Linked DNA regions of Homo sapiens: region 1 is linked to region 2. The links come from fine-mapping of genetic effects on gene expression. A gene starts in region 2. The other region holds a variant in brackets. All regions are shown on one strand. Distances are between the middles of the regions. Region 1 overlaps PARAIL (palmitic acid regulated anti-inflammatory lncRNA). Region 2 holds the start of PARAIL (palmitic acid regulated anti-inflammatory lncRNA).

What was found. PIP is the estimated chance that this variant, and not a neighbour inherited with it, causes the effect.
Region 1: its variant is fine-mapped to the expression of PARAIL in whole blood (TOPMed, PIP above 0.99).

What each region holds. Positions count from the first base shown.
Region 1 is chr8:89,725,388-89,729,783 of GRCh38, forward strand. PARAIL (palmitic acid regulated anti-inflammatory lncRNA) reads right to left here. Exons shown (of 5, transcript NR_125822.1): 2 at 131-254. Among named protein-coding and RNA genes, the nearest start is that of PARAIL, 30 kb to the right of the region's middle. RefSeq lists enhancers at 317-866, 442-491, 522-571, 622-721, 4,316-4,365 and a silencer at 4,066-4,115. The variant A/G (reference allele first, on the strand shown) is at 1,865.
Region 2 is chr8:89,755,298-89,759,693 of GRCh38, forward strand. It overlaps PARAIL (palmitic acid regulated anti-inflammatory lncRNA), which reads right to left and starts at 2,414. Exons shown (of 5, transcript NR_125822.1): 1 at 1,748-2,414. It overlaps RIPK2 (receptor interacting serine/threonine kinase 2), which reads left to right and starts at 2,519. Exons shown (of 11, transcript NM_003821.6): 1 at 2,519-2,936. The coding sequence starts at 2,764. RefSeq lists a silencer at 2,265-2,384 and enhancers at 2,925-2,994, 4,273-4,362.

The sequences.
Region 1 (4,396 bases), 30 kb before region 2:
TTTGTCTCTTTTGGGACTTACATAGTTCTAACCCCCTCAAAAAAAATGCAATTAACATTTCATTTTACATATCTTGGCATCATTTTGGAATCCTAAAAACAGGAACTCAAATAACCACCTTTATAGATACCTGATGAGTTGTTTCAGGTTGAAGTAATGATCCAAGAGTTCAGAGAAGGAGATTGATGGTGGTGGTGTAGTCAGAAGAAGTGGAATATAACCTCAGTCTCAAAGAAGCAGAAATTTCCAATGAACTAGAGAAGAAGGAAGAATACAAATAGCGTCTAGGAAGTGAGAACAAGTAAATCTAGGGAAGCTTGTTAGGAAAAACTGGAAAAGAAAATTAAGTAGAGAATAAATAAAGCATTCAGGCTTTGAAACACAGGTAAATACAGTTACATTTAACCAGATAGGAAAATACAGAATCTGGAAAGTTTCTGGGCCACAAAGTGCCACACAGTAAAATCAGGCATCTGCTCCTGGCATGCTTAAGAGCTCAGAATAAAGGACTTCCCCATTCTGCCCCTTCCCCCACTGTAAAGCTCACTGGCTTAAAAAACTGCTCCTTCTGCTACTATCTACCTCATTCTAAGCATCAACTCTAGGTGGGGCTGGTGCCTAGGCATTTTATAATTACTTTTCTATGTCTGCCTAACTTGGCTGAGAACCTACTTCAGAACTGACTCAAAAATCTCACAGATGCTGTCATTCACCCTCAGGATCTGTGTTTAATAATAGAGTCACAAGGCCTATGCAATCCAACTCAGCCCAGGGTCTGGCTTAGCCAATGTCTGCCAGCTGGTCTCATCCCCACACCCCAGGCCCCCACTTCATCACCAGTACATTGGCATCAATATTTATCTTTTCAAATTGGCATGCAATTTAAAAGAATGTTTTTATCTCACAGATCAGCAGGTATCCTATTATTATCTAGTTTTATGCTGATTTTTTAGGAGCTAACTAATGAAAAGACTCAATCATTGTTTTTGTGGGAAGATGTTGAAACTTTACCCTTTCTGGGCAATCTGTGCTTCACTATTGTTTCACTATATTTGTAATATTCAAAACCTCAATAGTCAAAACAAGCATCCCATAATGCCAAAGCAGCCAACCCATTGCATTAGTGCTATGAGTGGTAACTGAGGCAAAAGAAGACCCTTAGAATTCTCTAAATGTTTTGAGGTTTAGGGAAAGAGTTGTATTAGAAAACAATCCTTAATCAGGTTGAGATTTAACTGCATTCAAAGTCAGTGTTAAATTCTTGCTAAGAGATTTGATGTTATACATGAGATTATATAAACAGGTACAAGTCACAGCAAATACAGGAGAGATAATAAACCAAAACTGACTGTCACAACTAGATCCTGAAAGCCAGTTTGGTAACTCTGGCACATTTTGCCAATTTCCATGTATAAGATCACATGCTACACTGTATGAATGAAAGTATTACATCCAATTAACTGATCTGCCTGTCATATGTTAGTCAGTAGAGAAATATTTATTGAACACCCCACAGATGAGTAATTTTAGAAACTATGTTAATAGCAAAACATCTAAAGGTAGAATAATTGCTACTTTTTCTGCATATGCCTAGCACAGTGTTCACCCTCAAAACAACACTAAGCTGGAAAAGAGAAAACCTTAGAGCAGAGCCAGGATCCAAAACTAAAATTAATTAATGTACCACAGTTCATGAAGCAGTTCCACATGCATTATCGTATTCACTCCTCCTATAACTCTTATAAATGAGAAAAGTGAGTTTCAGCAAGGATGAGCAATGTGAATACTAAAATAGAAACTGAACTTAAAACCAAGCACAATCCTGTTAACATGTTTTTATATGTGTGATTTAGGTTAGGCATAC[A/G]TTATGCAGATTTTTAGAGCCTTTGCACATCTGCCTACAAGTTATGAATACAAAATTACTAATTCATATTATGGTACTCACCTATTAAAACATTTTATTGCCCCAGAGTATAAGAGGATGCACACATGATTAACCATGACCATACATTAAAAATGTACCATCCAGACTCTGGAAAAACTTTTTGTTGTCTGTGGTAGCAAAAATAGTCATCTCGTTTAAACTGCACCTTCAGATCTTCTCTTTCCATAAATTTTCCTCGATAATTTATTCCCTACAAAATACTACTGATTTGATTCTTCATTCACTACCTCCCTAGTCTTCTTCTCATTTTAGCATGAATATTACTGAATCTCTTTACAGTGTTTCTGTTAAATATTTGTGTAGATATACATATGTATACTCTGCTGTCTTCCATGTAAGCTGCTTAATAACTAAGCTATCTTAGACATTTAATTTAGATGTGTGTACCATTTGATTACTCACTAAATAGAAATTTACATAATCCCTTTATTCTAACAAGTTTACCACCTTATCACAAAGCAAATCTAAAGAAAACTGCAAACCTGGCAAGGTGGCTCATACCTGTAAAACCCAGCAATTTAGGAGGCCGAGGTGGGCGGATTGCCTGAGCTCAGGAGTTTAAGACCAGCCTGGGTGATATGGTGAAAACTTGTCTCTATAAAAAATACAAAAATTGGCCAGATGTGGTGGTGCATGCCTGTAGTCCCAGCTATTTGGGGTGCTGCGGTGGGAGGATTACCTGAGCCTTGAGCGGTCCAGGCTGCAGTGGGCCATGTCTGAGCCACTGCACTCCAACCTGAGTGACAGAGTGAGACACCGTCTCTAAAACATATTAAAATAAATAAAACTGGAAATTTATGTTATTTGGTTCTGATGTTTACATGTCCAGCTATGGGCTCTGAAACAGCACCAATGCCATAGACAAAATCCTTAGAGAAGTCAGAGGAGCCACCTCTCTGACTGAGATAGAGAGAGGGCTCCTGGCTGAGTAATAACTACTGTATGAATTTGTCAATGTCCTCTAGTCAAAGACCACCAGCAACACATCTGCAGTTCTATAAAACTGGGTTTATTAATTCATTGCAAGGGGGAGAAACAAATACCATGGGAGACCCTTGAGCATATCAGTAAGAAGGTGTTAGAAAAAACTTACAGGATTTGAGTTTGTGGTAGGTGATTCGGGGGAGCTTTCAAGAAAATGGGGATCTTCCCTGGACTGGATGTTGTACAGAAACAGGGGGAATTCCCTGATTAGGTATCTTAATTATTCTTATCTAAACATTGAAAGGAATGAAGTAAGCTAATGCTATAATTGGAAAGAATCAGCAGTTATTCATTATTAGCCAGGAAAGGGGAATGTTCACTCATTTTCATGGATTGGACAGTGTTCTTATTTTTCTCTGTTCTGAAATGATCATGAAGTAGTCTAATTTCCATCTTGCTCCATTATAGTCACAAAGAGATCATGTGTGAAGTTTGTGTTCTGTGAAAATGTATATATTCAGAAAGAGAACTCCACAGCTTCACTGTGAGTGCTAAGCCAAGTCTTAGCCAGTAGTGCAAACTAGATAAGAAAGCTTTGCTCAAAGGGCAGAATTGGCCAGAAAACAACACTTATTATTGTCATTATTTACGAATATTGACAGGCTTATAAAGTCCTTATATATTCATTGTGTAACTTGAGCCTCTCAGAACAATCTTGGAAGATAAATAGACCATAGTACCTCCACATTGCACAACTTCAGGGGCCCCAATGATCATGTATTCCATGTGAATGATACCTCCCCACTGTGAACAACATCCCCACTGGAGTTGTACAAAAATGGCTGCCCTGGAAGGGCAGACATTTCTATTCTGTTTGACAACTATTAAAATTGAGCCAAAGAAGGTTCCTGAGTGCTCTTTATGTCCCAATAAACTCCACAGTTTTGTCATGTTCAGCTGCTGACGTTGGATCCCTGATGCAGTCATAGTTCCCCCTTCCAGAGAATTGCACCAGCCCGCCCTGTGATGACCTAGATTACACAGGCTACTACAATAAGAACAGCTCCGCCTTCTTCTACAACTGTATCTGCCCAAAACAGGATGTTAAAAAGGTTACTGAACTTATAACCTCCTTTCACAGTCACTTCTTAAGAAGTGTGTGTGTGTGTGTGTGTGTGTGTGTGTGTGTTGCCTTTTTTTTTTTTTTTTTTTGAGACGGAGTCTCGCTCTGTCGCCCAGGCTGGAGTGCTGTGGCGCGCTGGAGTGCAGTGGCGCGATCTCGGCTCACTGCAAGCTCCGCCTCCCGGGTTCACGCCATTCTCCTGCCTCAGCCTCCGGAGCAACTGGGACTACAGGCGCCCGCCACCACGCCCGGCTGATTTTTTTGTATTTTTAGTAGAGACGGGGTCTCACCGTGTTAGCCAGGATGGTCTCGATCTCCTGACCTTGTGATCTGCCCGCCTCAGCCTCCCAAAGTGCTGGGATTACAGGCGTGAGCCACCGCGCCCAGCTAAAAAGTTAATATAC
Region 2 (4,396 bases):
TCCGGTTTTCTGGATCTCATGTCTTTCTTTTTCTTGGGCTACTCCCATGTTTTGCTGAACACATTCTCTAGGAGCTTTCTTTAAAAAAAAAAAATGACATGGAAAGAAAGTATTTCATTCTTGTATATGTGAAAATGTTTTTATTCTGCCCTTACATTTGACGGAAAGTTTGACTATAGAATTCTAAGTTGGAAGTTACTGTCCTTCAGAATATTGGAAAAATTTCACTTCATTATATTTCAGGATAACAATGACTTAGTAACATTGTTAAGAAATTCAATGCCATTCTAATTCCCATCTCTTTAATTTTTGTTTCCGCCCTCTGAAAACGTTTAGAATCTTCCCTTTAGTGTTAGTGTTCTCACCCTTTTAATGATGTATGTGCCTTAATGTAGGTCTTTTTACTTGGTGGGCCCTTTAAATATGAAGACTCCTGCCCTAGCAAAAATTTTTAAATTATTATTTTGATCATTTCTTCCCTGTTTATTTTTTGTTCTCTTTTTCTAGGACTCAGGTTTTTAATTAATTGACTGGATAAACATGTCAGGCCTCTGAGCCCAAGCTAAGCCATCATATACCCTGTGACCTGCACGTATACATCCAGATGGCCTGAAGCCACTGAAGAACCACAAAAGTGAAAATAGCCAGTTCCTACCTTAACTGATGACATTCCACGATTGCGATTTGTTCCTGCCCTTCCCTAACTGATCAATGGACCTTGTGACACTCCTTCTCCTGGACAATGAGTCTCAGGAGCTCCCCACTGAGCACCTTGTGACCCCCACCCCTGCCCGCAAGAGAAAAACCCCCTTTAACTGTAATTTTCCACTACCTACCCAAATCCTATAAAGACTGCCTCACCCCTATCTCCCTTTGCTGACTCCTTTTTCGAACTAAGTCGGCCTACACCCACATGATTAAAAGCTTTATTGCTCACCCAAAGCCTGTTTGGTGGTCTCTTCACACTGACGCGCGTTAACAGAATGAATGGATAGAAAAGTCTTCTGAGTACTTTTTAAGAAAAAAGCTTATTGGCCGGGCGCGGTGGCTCACGCCTGTAATCCCAGCACTTTGGGAGGACAAGGTGGGCGGATCACGAGGTCAGGAGTTCGAGACCAGCTTGGCCAACACGGTGAAACCCCGTCTCTACTAAAAATACAAAAATTAGCTGGGTGTGGTGGCGGGCGCCTGTAATCCAAGCTACTTGGGAGGCTGAGGCAGAAGAATTGCTTGAACCAGGGAGGCAGAGGTTGCAATGAGCAGAGCAGAGATCGCGCCACTACACTCCAGCCTGGGTGACAGAGCACGACTCCCTCTCGAAAAGAAAAAAAAAAGCTTATTAAGCAATAAAGCACAGAGTATCAGACCATATGTTTAGTGCTGAACATTTTATTATAAATGATCAAAAATGTTTAACATACTATTGTTTACAACCTCCCACTACTGTAAAATCTAACATTGCTACTTTCATTTCAGGTAATGCAAAAATACAAGAAGCATTAGCTGTCTGTAGGCAGAAATCTGTTCGAGTCATTCCTTATTACTGAATCCCTAGAATTAATTAAACATCTAGTATGGAGTTGGTATTGTATATAACATTTGCACTCACGTCTTACAAAATAGTCATCTAAGTAGAAAGGTATTCAAGGCAGAAGGATGGAAAAACGTTTGCAGTCTTTTTTGGTTGGCATGAAACACTGACTGCATTCCTCCCAGATTTATAAGAAAGAAATATTTGCAGTCTTACCTGGAGTTAGATGGATGGACTCTCTCAAGGTTATTTTTCAATCTCTGCACATACATACTTATGGAAGTAAGAAAGAAGAGGGAGAAAAGGCAGATCCCCCATAACAGCGGTTAAACACCTGAACTTGCTCCACTATGACAGGGTTTATCATCCACCTCTCAGTCCTCAAGTGGCTGGAAATATGGAAATTGGAGTCCAGGTAGACAGGTGAGTGTACAACCTCTTAAGTGTGGAGCCCTCGGAATTCACAACACTCCCCAAATCGCTTCCTGCGCAGGCGCGGAGTCGGAAGGGAGTCGGAAAGCAGACCCCGGTGCCCCCTAATAAAGCCCCCAGCCGGACGCTGCCGCTACCGGGGTTTGGCAACTTCCGGAAGACCTGTGGCCCAAAGGAGAATCCTGTTGGGGGAGGCGGGGGCCGGTGGTCGCTAACCAATCCGACACCCGCCAGCAGGCTGAAGAGAGGGGCTTTCCCAAAAGGAAAACTTTCCCAAACCTGGGGGATGGGAAGAGAAGACAAAAGGAGCTCCCTTTCCCACTTCCCAGCCGCCCGTCCCAGCCCTCGGCCTCCGCTGCGCGACCCGGGCGGAGGATCCCGGCCGCAGGCCGAGGCGAGAGCCAGGCGGGAGGGCCGCGAGCGGGCTGCCCCTCTCCCCGCCTTGCCGTCCGCCGCTGACGTAACCTGCGAAGTTTGGGGAGGGAGGAGCTCGGGCGGCCGGAGCTGGTCGCTGCGCGCGCCGGGGGGAGGGCCGGGGCTGCGAGAGAGGAAGCTCTTTCGCGGCGCTACGGCGTTGGCACCAGTCTCTAGAAAAGAAGTCAGCTCTGGTTCGGAGAAGCAGCGGCTGGCGTGGGCCATCCGGGGAATGGGCGCCCTCGTGACCTAGTGTTGCGGGGCAAAAAGGGTCTTGCCGGCCTCGCTCGTGCAGGGGCGTATCTGGGCGCCTGAGCGCGGCGTGGGAGCCTTGGGAGCCGCCGCAGCAGGGGGCACACCCGGAACCGGCCTGAGCGCCCGGGACCATGAACGGGGAGGCCATCTGCAGCGCCCTGCCCACCATTCCCTACCACAAACTCGCCGACCTGCGCTACCTGAGCCGCGGCGCCTCTGGCACTGTGTCGTCCGCCCGCCACGCAGACTGGCGCGTCCAGGTGGCCGTGAAGCACCTGCACATCCACACTCCGCTGCTCGACAGGTAGGCAGTCACTGGGGTTCCCTGGAAGAGCCCTCAACTCCTGCATCCCCTCAAGCCCCCTGACAAGCGGGCTCTAGAGCCCAAATGGCAGTGACCGCTTGGGGCCGGCCTCACCTCGTCACCTCTAGGGAGCCCTTCAAGCTTGGGAGATAGGGAGCACCCACCCTTCAAGCTCTGGCACCGTAGGGAGCACAGGCTTCTCTGGAGATGCAGCAGTTGCATTCCTCCACACATCTCTCCATTACCCTTTCTCTCCTTCCCTCTTACTCCTAGGCGTTCTGGCTCCGTACTCCAAAAATCAGCAATCACTGCCTAACTCTAAACGCTGGGTTTACTGAAATTGATGTGTGTTTATATATAGTGGGTGTGGGTTTTGTTTGCTTTGTTTTTTCCTTATTTTTGAAATTGGGCTGTAGGGCTGCACTGTCCAGTAGGTAGCTCTTAGCCACAGGTGGCTATTGAGCACTTGAAATGTGCCCGTCCGAATTGAAGTGTGACCTAAGTGTAAAATACCAGAGTTCGAATGCTTAGTATTTATTAAAAAAAGAACTTATAATATTTTATTATTTGTTTATTGATTATATGCTGAAATAACATTTTTGATATCTTGGGTTAAATATAAGATTAAAATTCATTTTATGTGTTTCTTTTTACTTTATGTGGCCACGAGAAAATTTTAAATTGTATGTGGTGGTGTTCACATTATATGTTTATTGGACCGCACTGCTTTAGAATCAAGGATGTTTTGCTTCTTATTGTTTTTATTTTGGTTTTGGTTTATTATGTGTTGTCAGGAACGTTTTATATCAAACTCAATACTAGCAGTTCAGTTTCTCCCAGTCTCAGTTTCTCTCACAGGGAAGATTAAGTAGAGGAAATGTGTGCTATTTTTGCCACAATAAATTGAACCAAAAGACTGTTAAATGGCCAGAAATTGTAAATGGCTTTCACTTATTGGTTTGTACAGGTTTTAAGGGAAGGTTAGCATTAGTTTCTGTTTTCAGAAGAACATTACAACCGCGTGCCATAGACCTGTGACTGTGTATTAGTCAATGGGTCACTAGTCTTGTGTATTTTACTTCCTACAGGGATTTAACTAGGCCCAGCATTCAGTTCTTAGTGAGTTAACATCCATGATTACAACATTCTCTTCTCCTCCTCCTATATCTAATGTGAAAATACGTCATCCCCGATGCCTGATTGGCCAGAAGCTGTGAGTATCCAGCATCAGATAAATTCCTCAGCTTCCGCCCTGCCAAAGTTACTGGATTTTCACCTGCCTGTGGCTTTTCTTCATTGTCTCTCACTGTCAGGCTTCGATGGCCTAAATGGCACAGGAGATTTGGGACACTTCTAGAGCTTGTTTCCACTTCTTGTCTATCATAATCCAGATTCAGTGATATACAAGGTGTGGTGTCTGTTTACTCCAGGCCTTATATTCTGTGGAGCAAGTGCTGGAC